Linked DNA regions of Homo sapiens. The protein of the gene in region 1 purifies or fractionates together with the protein of each later gene. This does not show direct contact. Each region holds a gene or a part of one and is shown on either strand. Other genes may lie near its edges.

Region 1 (4,686 bases):
ATTTACTCAACCATTTCAGGAGAAGCTACTGTGTGTCAGGCATCCTTAGGTCCTGGACACACTGTTTAACAAGATGGGCCCTGCCTATGGGAGCCCATAATTTGAAGGGAAAGTCAGATGCTGGACAAGTCATCTCACTGTGAGTGAGCCAGAAAAAACAGCATTGTAGGTCAAAGTGGTGCAAAGATCGTGAGGTAGGAAAAGAGACTAAAGTGGTTCTAGGAAAAATACAGGCAGGGTAAAGGAGGATACAGGTGAGGTGTGGGATCAGATCAGGGAGGGCCTTACGGATTTCTGAGCTGGATCTTTTACCCTTTTATTTAGCCAAAGAGGTCATGTAGTTATTTTACTAATTTGCATTCAGATTGTTCTGGCTTTTAGAAACTACAAACATTTCTATGATTAGTATTCTTGAAATGATCTTGTTGTAAGTTTGTGAGTACATCTGGAGGGAAACTTTGAGAAGGATTGCTGAGTTCAAGGGCTTGTGTGATTAAGTTTTAAAATTATAAAATGTGGTGCATCCGTGCTAATAATTACCATTCAGCCATTGAGGAAAATGAGGTAGATTTATGCATATTGATGAAGAATGAAGACCACAATATCCTGTGTTACAGGAAAGAGATATTGCTAAGTGGCCCTTCAAAATAGTGTAAATTGTTAAATCCGTCTACAGTGGATGAAGATGTCTGCTTCCTCCAGGTTCACTATCAATGTTTTAAAACTCTAATCTTTATCAGAAAAGAAATATTTCATTGTTTTAAATTTGTTGTGTGTATGGTGAACATATTTGATTATTGGCCACTTACAGTTTTTCTTTTTTTATTAACTTCCGGTTTGTGTTTTTCTTTGATTAAAGAGCTCTTTGTAGATAAAATTAGCTCCCCTTATATTGCAAACTTCTTTCCTCTGGAGTCTTCTGTCTATGGTTTCCTTTACAATTCAGTGGTTTTAAGTTAAATAGTCACATATCATTCAATTCCTTTTTGACTTCTGGGTTTTACCAGGCTTGTAAAAGAGCAGACTAATTCTTGAGTACTTAGGCTTTAGAGAACTTTCACACCTACGGACAAAGATAAGGAAAACCATGATTTTCTAATCTTTTGAGAAAACAGCTCCTTGAAGAAAATTCAGTGTTAAATCCTACTTTTGTTACTGTACAGAAAAATCACTTTTTAAAAATAATTGCTAAGAAGTAAGGTACTTGGATTTTAAGAATGAATGTTACCTAACACAATGGTTCTCCATTTTTTTTTGTTTTGTTTTAAAGACCCTTTTACACTCTTAGAAATTATTGAAGACCACTTTTGCTTGTGTGATCTGCTCTTTTCTGTATTAGAAATTAAGACTGAGAAACTTAAGATATTTATTCACTAAGTAATCACATTACATTAATGTAAATTTTTTTTTAACATAAAATATTTTTTGTTCTGGAAAAGTTTGGAGAAGAATGGCATGGTTTATATTTTTGAAAATTTGCTTTATTTGGCTTAATACAAGACAACTGGATTCTTATCAAATTCTATATTCACTCTTACATCTGTTAAAATATACGAAGAAAACCTGGCTTCACACAGATACGTTTTTAATAGTCTTTTCAGATAAGTGTGGATAGGTTTTTTTGCCACTACACTAAAACCCACAAGTGGCTGTTTCTGAATATAAAATTGCAATGTGGAATCTGAAACCGTATCAATGAGCATTTTGTATCTTGACAGTAAAATCCATTGGTCTATTTTGCACTTGGAATGTATCTTATATTCTTGCATCTATCTTGCATTGACCATTCAGAAATACTGGTTCACTGAGATATGTAGATACCCACATGTTGAGATGCTTTATTATACAATATCAAAAGCACATTAATACCACAACTGATCTCATCAGAAAAGTCTAAGCACCTGTCAAGCTAATGACTGCAGATAAGTTTTCCAAAATTCCTTTTTTTGGCCAGATGCAGTGGCTCACGCCTGTAATCCCAGCACTTTGGGAGGCAAGGCGGGCGGATCACCTGAGGTCACGAGTTCAAGACCAGCCTGGCCAACATGGTGAAACCCCGTCTGTACTAAAAATACAAAAATTATCCGGGTGTGGTGGGCGCACCTGTAATCCCAGCTGCTTGGGAGACTGAGGCAGGAGAATCGCTTGAACCCAGGAGGCAGAGGTTGCAGTGAACGGAGATTGTGCCACTGCACTGCAGCCTAGGTGAAAGAGTGAGACTCTGTCTCAAAAAAAAAATATTCATTTTTTAATTTTTGACAAAATTTTAACGTTTTATATTCTGCCATTGGCAACAAAGGCTGTCAGTTTTCCTTGAGGTGATAGACTTCTTTCATTCCTTTAAGAAAAAGTGTGACAAGCACCCAGGTCTGAGTGACCATGGGATTTCTTGCAGTTGTTAATTCAAGTAAAAACAGTATTCCAGGAAAATGTTCTCTAGTTTTAGCTTGCAACTCATATAGTTGCACAAATCCTTTTAATCGTATTTTGGTGTACAGTGGAAGTGCTTTATGGCATACTTCTCATTTTATCACACAGAACATTAAAAAGACATCTCAAGGATGGAGAGCTAATAAAATTAATACTTTCTACTGCATATGGTGAAGTGACAGTAAGTGAAACTGGCATTTTTAAACTACAAGCGAAGAAGGATGCAGAACAGAGAGACTGCTAATATGGTTTACTGTCACTGCCTTGATTTGTGTTGAGGCACCAGCAGCTTTCTCCACCGCTGCCTTGGTACCATCATTACAAATGTCAACCCAGTGGAAAAAGGTGTGAATATTGTCTTGAAAATAGTTTTGACCTCATGGACCCCCTCAAAGGGTCTCAGACCACAAGGGATCTACAGCCCACACTAAGAACTGCTGCCCTGACAAAAACGCTTTCTCTCTGTAACAGACTTTGAGAGTTTTGACCTGCCTGAAGAGCACCAGATTGCGCACCTCCCCTTGAGTGGAGTGCCTCTCATGATCCTTGACGAGGAGAGAGAGCTTGAAAAGCTGTTTCAGCTGGGCCCCCCTTCACCTGTGAAGATGCCCTCTCCACCATGGGAATCCAGTAAGTGAGCAAGTGCCCTTCTGGAAGGGCTGCAAACAATTTGTTTCATAACACTTCCATTACCATGGGAAGAGTTGTGCGGGAGGTGAGCCTGTGAGTAATTTCTGTCCTTCAAATGACAAGGATTAGTTTTCAGAAAAATAAACTATTCTCGATTAATATTGCTTTTCAGTCCCAAATGCCCCAGTAAAATTGTTATTCTGGAAACTGGATAGTCTTACTACAGCCAAAAGATTAATTCTCACTTACATCTTCTTAGGCTATAAGTTGAAGCATATATAATAAACTTGCTTGGAATGATGATTCCATGTTATATCCAAAGCTAATATAAGATCAAAACACCTGTGCTGTAGCATAGACTGACAATAACTTCTTACTGCAGAAGGTCTGAGGTCTTCGTTTGAACTGGTAGTCAAAGCCAACATTATGTTTTCTGTTTGTTCTGATGTGGGATAATTTGTCCTAATAAGTTACATTAGTGAGACTGTTAACTCTTACTTTGGTCTCTAAGAACAATAGAGATTCAGATACTTCTAAAACTTACTTCCTAATGAAAGTCAATTCTGGGGCCACAGACACATTCCAAAAAATGTGTCAGGAGGGGATGCAGGTGATTGATTTGACAAAGGGAAAAACATGAATTTTTGATTGACAGCTAATGTCTATGTTGATATGGACAATGACTCAAGGATTTGCAGAAATTTTAATAAGAGATTCCTGTTTTCTAGATCTGTTGCAGTCTCCTTCAAGCATTCTGTCGACCCTGGATGTTGAATTGCCACCTGTTTGCTGTGACATAGATATTTAAATTTCTTAGTGCTTCAGAGTTTGTGTGTATTTGTATTAATAAAGCATTCTTTAACAGATTCTTCCTAGTATTGTGGTTGCTTTTCCATGGAGGTTACTTAAAATAACATGAAAGCTAGCTGAGGTGTTTAACAAAGAGTCTATAATGTGACAATAGAGATTTGTCTGATGTCTAAAAACTTAAATCTTTTTGGTTTAACAGCTTATTTTAGAAGCTGCCACTGTTTTTTCCTGAAAAGTATACCCCTCAATGTGTACTTTATTGACTTTTTGTGGCCATTAACTAGTGACAGTTATTAGATCTCTTAATTAGAAGAGCTACTTCCAACTCATTAAGTATCTATTGCTGGGCATTCTTTATTGCCGGTTCTACTTAGTTTCTAATGACTTTAATACTCAGTATTGAAAGGCTCTAAATCTGAGAATTCAGCCTCCTTGGGATCTTCAATTAGATTCCTTAAAGATCACTGGAGATAATTTACTGATAGTAAGGTCTACACTCCACCTATAGGAAACTGTATTTAGTTGTTTACCTTGTGTTGGACATGAGTATTTGAGAAGCATTATTATGTTTAATGTTTGACACTTTCCCAGGTAAGACAATGAAGCGCAGAAGTTCATTGATTTGTCAAAGATGTGAAGAGCTAGAAAATTATTAGAGCTGGTATTTTGATCTCAGTTCTGAGGTTGGAATCAAAATAGAGATGGCAAATGGTTGCTCATAGGTTTTCTTTTTGAGGGAGGGGGTGGATATTTTAAAAACCTTAATCATTTCCACTATTTAAAATTCCAGTGTTTCACCAATCTGGCTTTGGAGAT
Region 2 (7,301 bases), on another chromosome or scaffold:
TGGTGGAAGGCACCTCTTCACAGGGCAGCAGGAAAGAGAATGTGTTCCAAGTGAAGGGGTAAGCCCCTTATAAAACTATCAGATCTTGTGAGAACTCACTCACTATCATGAGAACAGCATGGGGAAAACTGTCTTCAGGATTCAGTTATGTCTACCTGGTCCCACCCTTGACATGTGGGGATTATTACAATTCAGAGTGAGATTTGGGTGGGGACACAGAGCCAAACCATGTCACCATCCTACCTTCTTAATCTCTCAGCTCCTCCTTTCCCCTGCCTCTTGCAGCAAACTCCTAATCCTTCTTCACCCATCAGCTCAGAATGTTACCTTTTCAGAGAAGCCTTCCTTGTCACTCCCACTTAGGTTCTTCTTCTTTTAAGCAGGTATAGCTTACATCACACAATTCCCAGCCTAGTAACTGATTCATTATATAACCAGGCTCACCTCTCTTGAGAGGGAGGGACTCTCATTTGAGAGCAGGGACTGACTTTATTTGAGGCTAAGCAATATTTATAGTATTGACACATGGTAAGTATATAATAAACATTGGTTGAATGAGCAATAATAATGGCTAACATATTGCATATATTGTTCTTAGCATCTTAACATGCAGAGATAACTGTATGAGGTGGATTCATTATCAGATTACAGTAGTTCTTCAGTATATCAGCTAGCTTAATGACAGTTGAAAGATCATGCTAGCAATTGAACAAATGTATCTGGCACACCTCTGAGCACAGAGAGGATGGCTTTTCCTCTAGGCAGATTTTCTTAACAGGTTGCTCAGTTTTTCATAGGATAATATAGACTCTGCTCAGTACAGTAATTCTATTAAGACATGAAGCAATTTAGAGTAGATACACTATAAATAAATGCCCAGGGTAGCTATGGCAATGAACTTTGTCAAAAACATCACTCAGAGAAGCAATTTTTATGTATGTTCTGTCTGAAAGAGATACAGCCCACCCATTTCTCTAAAATACATTCATGGATTAAGTCAGATTAACAGGCTATCTTGAGATTACGTGTACCCTATTCTGTAGAACTGGTTTTACTGAATTGGCCTTTGAAATGATGCTATAAGACTATTAACGGATGTCTGATAGTTTCATAGAACTTAGCGCATTTTTAAAATTATACTTTAAGTTCTGGGATACATGTGCAGAATGTGCAGGTTTGTTACATAGGTATACATGTGCCATGGTGGTTTGCAGCACCCACCAACCCGTCATTTACATTAGGAATTTTTCCTAATGCTATCCCTCCCCTAGCTCTCCACCCCTTGACAGACCCAGTGTGTGATGTTCCCCTTCCTGTGTCCATGTGTTCTCATTGTTCAGCTCCCACTTATGAGTAAGAACATGCAGTATTTGATTTTCTGTTCCTGTGTTAGTTTGCTGAGAATGACAGTTTCCAGCTTCATCCACATCCCTGCAAAGTACATGAACTCATCCTTTATTATGGCTGCACAGTATTCCATGGTGTATATGTGCCACATTTTCTTTATCCAGTCTATCATTGATGGGCATTTGGGTTGGTTCTAAGTCTTTGCTATTAAGAACAGTGCTGCAATAAACATATGTGTGCATGTGTCTTTATAGTAGAATTATTTATAATCCTTTGAGTATATACCCAGTAATGGGATGGCTGGGTCAAATGGTATTTCTAGTTCTAGATCCTTGAGGAATCACCACACTCTCTCCCACAATGGCTGAACTAATTTACAGTCCCACCAACAGTGTAAAAGTGTTCCTATTTCTCCACATCCTCTCCAGCATCTGTTGTTTCCTGACTTTTTAATGATTGCCATTCTAACTGGCATGAGATGGTATCTCGTGGTTTTGATTTGCATTTCTCTAATGATCAGTGATGATGAGCTTTTTTTTTCATAGTTTGCTGGCTGCGTAAATGTCTTCTTTTGAGAAGCGTCTGTTCATATCCTTCCCCCACTTTTTGATGGGGTTGTTTGTGTTTAAGTTTAATTTGTTTAAGTTCTTTAAGTTCTTTGTAGATTCTGGATATTAGCCATTTATCAGATGGATAGATTGCAAAGCTTTTCTCCCATTCTGTAGGTTGCCTGTGCACTCTGATGATAGTTTCTTTTGCTGTGCACAAGTTCTTTAGTTTAATTAGATCCCATTTGTCAAGTTTGAACTTAGCCCATTTTATCTATTGCAAGGATACAGTGTCTTAAGGAGATTGTTATACTGTACAATTTTCCTTTTGTAAGTCTAGAAAGACTTAAAGCATTTTTCGTATTAGAGACAATTGTGCTTTTCCTGAGCAATTAGCTTGCTTTTTCTTTATGGGTACTGTGGATTGTGTAACTGATTAGGCTTACCTTTTTTGTATAGAGTCATGGGAAGAATAGATACAAATTTGTGATGTGACTATTGCAGTTATATGGAACATCACACACTTCAGTACATTTAGATATTAGCCTCATTCTTGGCTCCGTTATATTTCGTTATCCTGGCTTTTCTCTCTCTTTATCTTGCTTTTTTTCTTTCCTTCTTCCTTTCAAATTATCCTGTCTTCCTCATTTGCATTATATGAATTCTTTTAAGCTACCTCGTCATTATTTGAAATTACATTAAGTATATATACACACAAATATACATATGAATGTAAATTCCTAAAATGAATTTAGATTTTAAAAGAGCTACCTGTAAAGTAAGCTTTTAAAACAAGTTCCTTTGAAGTTCTTTGTTTGCTATTAGTGTTATATTTTTCTTCAGGACATTAAGCAAGATTTTGTTAGATTCCTATTTCCTTTCAAGTTTGGTTCAACAATTATATTAAAGCCTAGTTAGACATGGATGTGGTTTATATTTTCAATCGATGTACTCTTTTACTCAAATAAAGCACTTGTGATATTACAGACATTGTAATCCAATGTACAGGGCTATGAGTAAAGTTATAATGAACTTTGTAACTACAAGACTGAACTCCAGAAAATGTGAGGGAAGGGCATGAAGCACTCACGTTTTTATGTGAATAATGAATACCTACTCTAAAAATGTGTATTGACATTGGACAAAAGTATATATTCTAAACTACAAATGGTAGGTGGTGTAGCATAGTGGTTAAGGACACTAAAATGTAAAGGTTAGGTTGTACAGTAGAGTGACTAAGGGTACAGACTGAAGCTAGACCTCTTGAGATTGACAAATTGGCCATATGACATAGAGAAAATGATTTAACCTCTCTGTGCCTTAGTTACATTATCTGTAATATAGGGAACAATAATAGTACCTACCTGTTGGGGTTGTAATCTCTGGCATGTAGTAAGCATCTAGTGAGTCTCAGTTATTACTGTCTTTAACATATGGTATAATATTTCAGAATGTATGTTGTTGATTTTAATTTTTAGGTCTCTTGCAGCTGAATGGGGTAAATATGGAATGCGATTCAATGTGATTCAACCAGGGCCTATAAAAACCAAAGTAAGTTGTATTTTGCTTGTTATCACATTGTGAATGATTAAATAATGAAACACTGATAGGTATATTCTGGTTGTTGTGTAAAGGACTTTCCAGAGATGCCTAGGTTTAGAGCCCTGGTTCTAGGGAAGAGGCCTTTGCCTTTATTCATTATCGAATATAAGAAATAAGGAGGCGGGCAGGAATATAGCAGCTATGCAATTTCTTCATAATGTCAATTTCAGTGTCTTAATCGTTTGGGATCTTTTATACCATCAATGTTGGCACTTTGTCTGATTTGTTTCAGTGGTCTGTTATTGTCCTGTATTTGTTAACTTTCATGACATTTTAAAGGCTCCTACATTGTCTGACATCCTTTTTTAAAAAAAATCAAGGAAATGTAACTATATTTTTAGTTTGAGAGATGCTTTGGTAACTTATTATATAGGCTTTGTCTTGTTATAGGTAGGTAGCATTTTCCTTGACTCATGCTTGTGCCCTTTCACTCTCAGTCAATTATGCATGTCATCTAACGCCCACATGTCTCTGATTATAAGTCCTTCTGACAGCATAGATTTCACCTATAAGTAATAATCCTTGTGGATACTCATTGCAACTTGTAATTATCTCTAATGTTGTTACAGATGTTGCTCAGAATATCCACACCTTCTCTGCTCTCTCATTATCCCAAAATAACTTCACTCACACTTCTCTTGGTTTTCACCTAAAGCAAGTATTTATAATGCCAACCAGATGTAATGTTGAAAGACCAGGAAAAATTTGGTAACTTGTTTCAGTTGTGTAAACATATTGGAAAATAATACTAAAGGACTTTTGGGTTATAGGTAGCTCTGGGTATTAAAAATAACTTGGAAATGGCCATATTAGTTTATTTAGCAGTTTAAAGGATGGGAAATAGAAACAAAAACTTCCTGAGTGATTGAAACTTGTTGACTATCTTATTTATCTGACAATTCAATACTAAACAGTCTAATAAAATTAGTGGAAAGAAACTTAAAAACATACATTAAAACACATGATTCAGGGTGGCCCTGTCCTAAGCATATCTGAAAATAGGCTTATAGACACAAACGCTTCTCTCCAAGACCCCAATATCTAGGGAAAAATCACCTGCATTTTATTTATTTAACCTATATTTATTGACTGTTCACTGTATCTACGGGTACTGAGAAAGATACAGAAGTATCTCTGAGAAAGTGCTTGCCACTAAGGAGTTTACAGTCTAGCCACTGAGATAGGAGTTGTACCCAAATAATAACTACTTACTGTTAAAGAGATTAAAAGAAAACTGAAGTGTAGAAACTCCCTAGCATGCACTTTTTAGAACCAGGACTGGGACCAGTTGCAACCCCTTGTCTCTGGGCTTTATAACCTCCTGGGAAGAACTGGAGGTCTGTCATGGAGTCCCCTGAGTGTTTGTTCTGTCTTATGGCTGCATTATTGAGGAAAACTGCCACCTAAACTTCAAGGCACTAGTACAGAAAAATCCAGTTGTTTTTATTAATCAGTGCACATCCATAATTCATCTTGGTCTGTTCCTTCACATCATTGACAGAAAGCAAATTGTTTGGCCAATTTAGTTGTAGTTTTTCTCTCTCTAGAATCTAATTGAATTTCTACCTACTTGTTTTCTTCCTTTTCCAATACTTTGGGATGAAAGAAAAGGAATTTCCTCTTAAATATTTCCTATGAGCCACTTTTCTGTGTTTATTAAATGAAAAGCCAGTAATACCACTGCCTTTACCACCTAAGCTTGTACATATTTCAGGATACCTTTATATACATTTTTTCATTTGATGCTTATAACAATTTTGTGAGGTAACTAAGATAGATATCCTCATTTTACATAGAAGAAACTAAGATTAAAAGGGTTATATTTTCCAGTGATCTATTTTTTTTTTAAGAATAATTTGGTGAAATTCTTTTTTACTTACAAAGCCTAAGGTTTTAAGCTGCATGGCAGCATGCCATTTTATACACATTTTTTCTTGAGTAGGAAAGGAATTGATTGAAAAACCCGACACAACCTAATTGTTTTCTTAATTTCTAAGGGTGCCTTTAGCCGTCTGGACCCAACTGGAACATTTGAGAAAGAAATGATTGGCAGAATTCCCTGTGGTCGCCTGGGGACTGTAGAAGAACTCGCAAATCTTGCTGCTTTCCTTTGTAGTGATTATGCTTCTTGGATTAATGGAGCAGTAAGCGTTGTTTATTTCTCTTCACTTTTTTTTCAGGAGTGTGTTTGGGGCAGGGAGGTCTGTTGTGGAACCAATCCTGACAATGCTGAATGTAAATATCATTTAAAATATGTATTTAGTTGTAAATAATATAAAATATTATATATATTGTTTAGCCTATGACATTTATTCAGTGATGTATTAGTCTGTTCTCACACTGCTAAAGACATACCTGAGACTATGTAATTTATAAAGAAAAGAGGTTTAAGGGAAGTGCAGGGGGTTGGGGAATTCCCTTTCCTAGCCAAGGGAAGCCCTGACAGATGGTACCTGGAAAATCAGGACACTCCCACCCTAATACTGCACTTTTCCAATGGTCTTAGCAAACGGCACACCAGGAGATTATATCCCGCGCATGGCTCAGAGGGTCCCATGCCCACAGAGCCTCGCTAACTGCTAGCACAGCAGTCTGAAATAGAACTGCAGGGTGGCAGTGAGACTGGGGGAGGGGTGTCCGCCAGTGCTGGGGCTTGAGTAGGTAAACAAAGTAGCCTGGAAGCTCAAACTGGGTGGAGCCCACCACAGCTCAAGGAGGCCTGCCTTCCTGCCTCTATAGACTCCACCTCTAGGGGCAGGACATAGCTGAACAAAAGGCAGCAGAAACTTCTGCAGACTTAAATGTCCCTGTCTGACAGCTTTGAAGAGAGTAGTGGTTCTCCCAGCATGGAGTTGGAGATCTGAGAACGGACAGACTGGCCCCTCAACTGGGCCCTTGACCCCCGAGTAGCCTAACTGGGAGACACCTCCCAGTAGGGGCCAACTGACACCTCATACAGCCAGGTGCCCCTCTGAGACGAAGCTTCCAGAGGAAGGATCAGGCAGCAACATTTGCCATTCTACAATATTTGCTGTTCTGCAGCCTCCACTGGTGATACCCAGGCAAACAGTGTCTGCAGTGGACGTCCAGCAAACTCCAACAGACCTGCAGCTCAGGGTCCTGACTGTTAGAAGGAAAACTAACAAACAGAAAGGACATCCACACCAAAACCCCGTTTGTATGTCACCATCACGAAAGACCAAAGGCAGATAAAACCACAAAGATGGGGAGAAACCAGAGCAGAAAAGCTGAAAATTCTGAAATTCAGAGCGCCTCTTCTCTTCCAAAGGAATGCAGCTCCTCGCCAGCAACGGAACAAAGCTGGACGGAGAATGACTTTGACGAGTTGAGAGAAGAAGGCTTCAGATGATTGGTAATAACAGACTTCTCTGAGCTAAAGGAAGGTGTTGGAACCCATCGCCAGAAAGCTAAAAACCTTGATAAAAGATTAGATGATGGCTAACTAGAATAAACAGCATAGAGAAGACCCTAAATGACCTGATGGAGCTGAAAACCATGACATGAGAAATACGTGATGCATGAACAAGCTTCAGTAGCTGATTCGATCAAGTGGAGGAAAGGGTATCAGTGATTGAAGATCAAATGAATGAAATGAAGTGAGAAGAGAAGTTTAGAGAAAAAAGAGTAAAAAGAAATGAACAAAGCCTCCAAGAAATATGGGACTATGTGAAAAGACCAAATCTACGTCTGATTGTACCTGAAAGTGACAGGGAGAATGGAACCAAGTTGGAAAACATGCTGCAGGATATTATCCAGGAGAATTTCCCCAACCTACCAACGCAG

Evidence for each region.
Region 2: the proteins of PTTG1 (region 1) and DECR1 purify together in Homo sapiens (affinity purification with mass spectrometry; 4 studies listed by BioGRID and IntAct, with this or other methods). This does not show direct contact.

What each region holds. Positions count from the first base shown.
Region 1 is NC_000005.10:160,424,814-160,429,499, forward strand, and holds the end of PTTG1 (securin), read left to right. Parts: intron 1-2,901; coding exon 2,902-3,060; intron 3,061-3,788; coding exon 3,789-3,868; 3' UTR 3,869-3,926; downstream 3,927-4,686. UniProt on the Homo sapiens protein: Regulatory protein, which plays a central role in chromosome stability, in the p53/TP53 pathway, and DNA repair. Probably acts by blocking the action of key proteins.
Region 2 is NC_000008.11:90,039,355-90,046,655, forward strand, and holds part of DECR1 (2,4-dienoyl-CoA reductase [(3E)-enoyl-CoA-producing], mitochondrial isoform 1 precursor), read left to right. Parts: intron 1-3,373; coding exon 3,374-3,446; intron 3,447-5,494; coding exon 5,495-5,641; intron 5,642-7,301. UniProt on the Homo sapiens protein: Auxiliary enzyme of beta-oxidation. It participates in the metabolism of unsaturated fatty enoyl-CoA esters having double bonds in both even- and odd-numbered positions in mitochondria.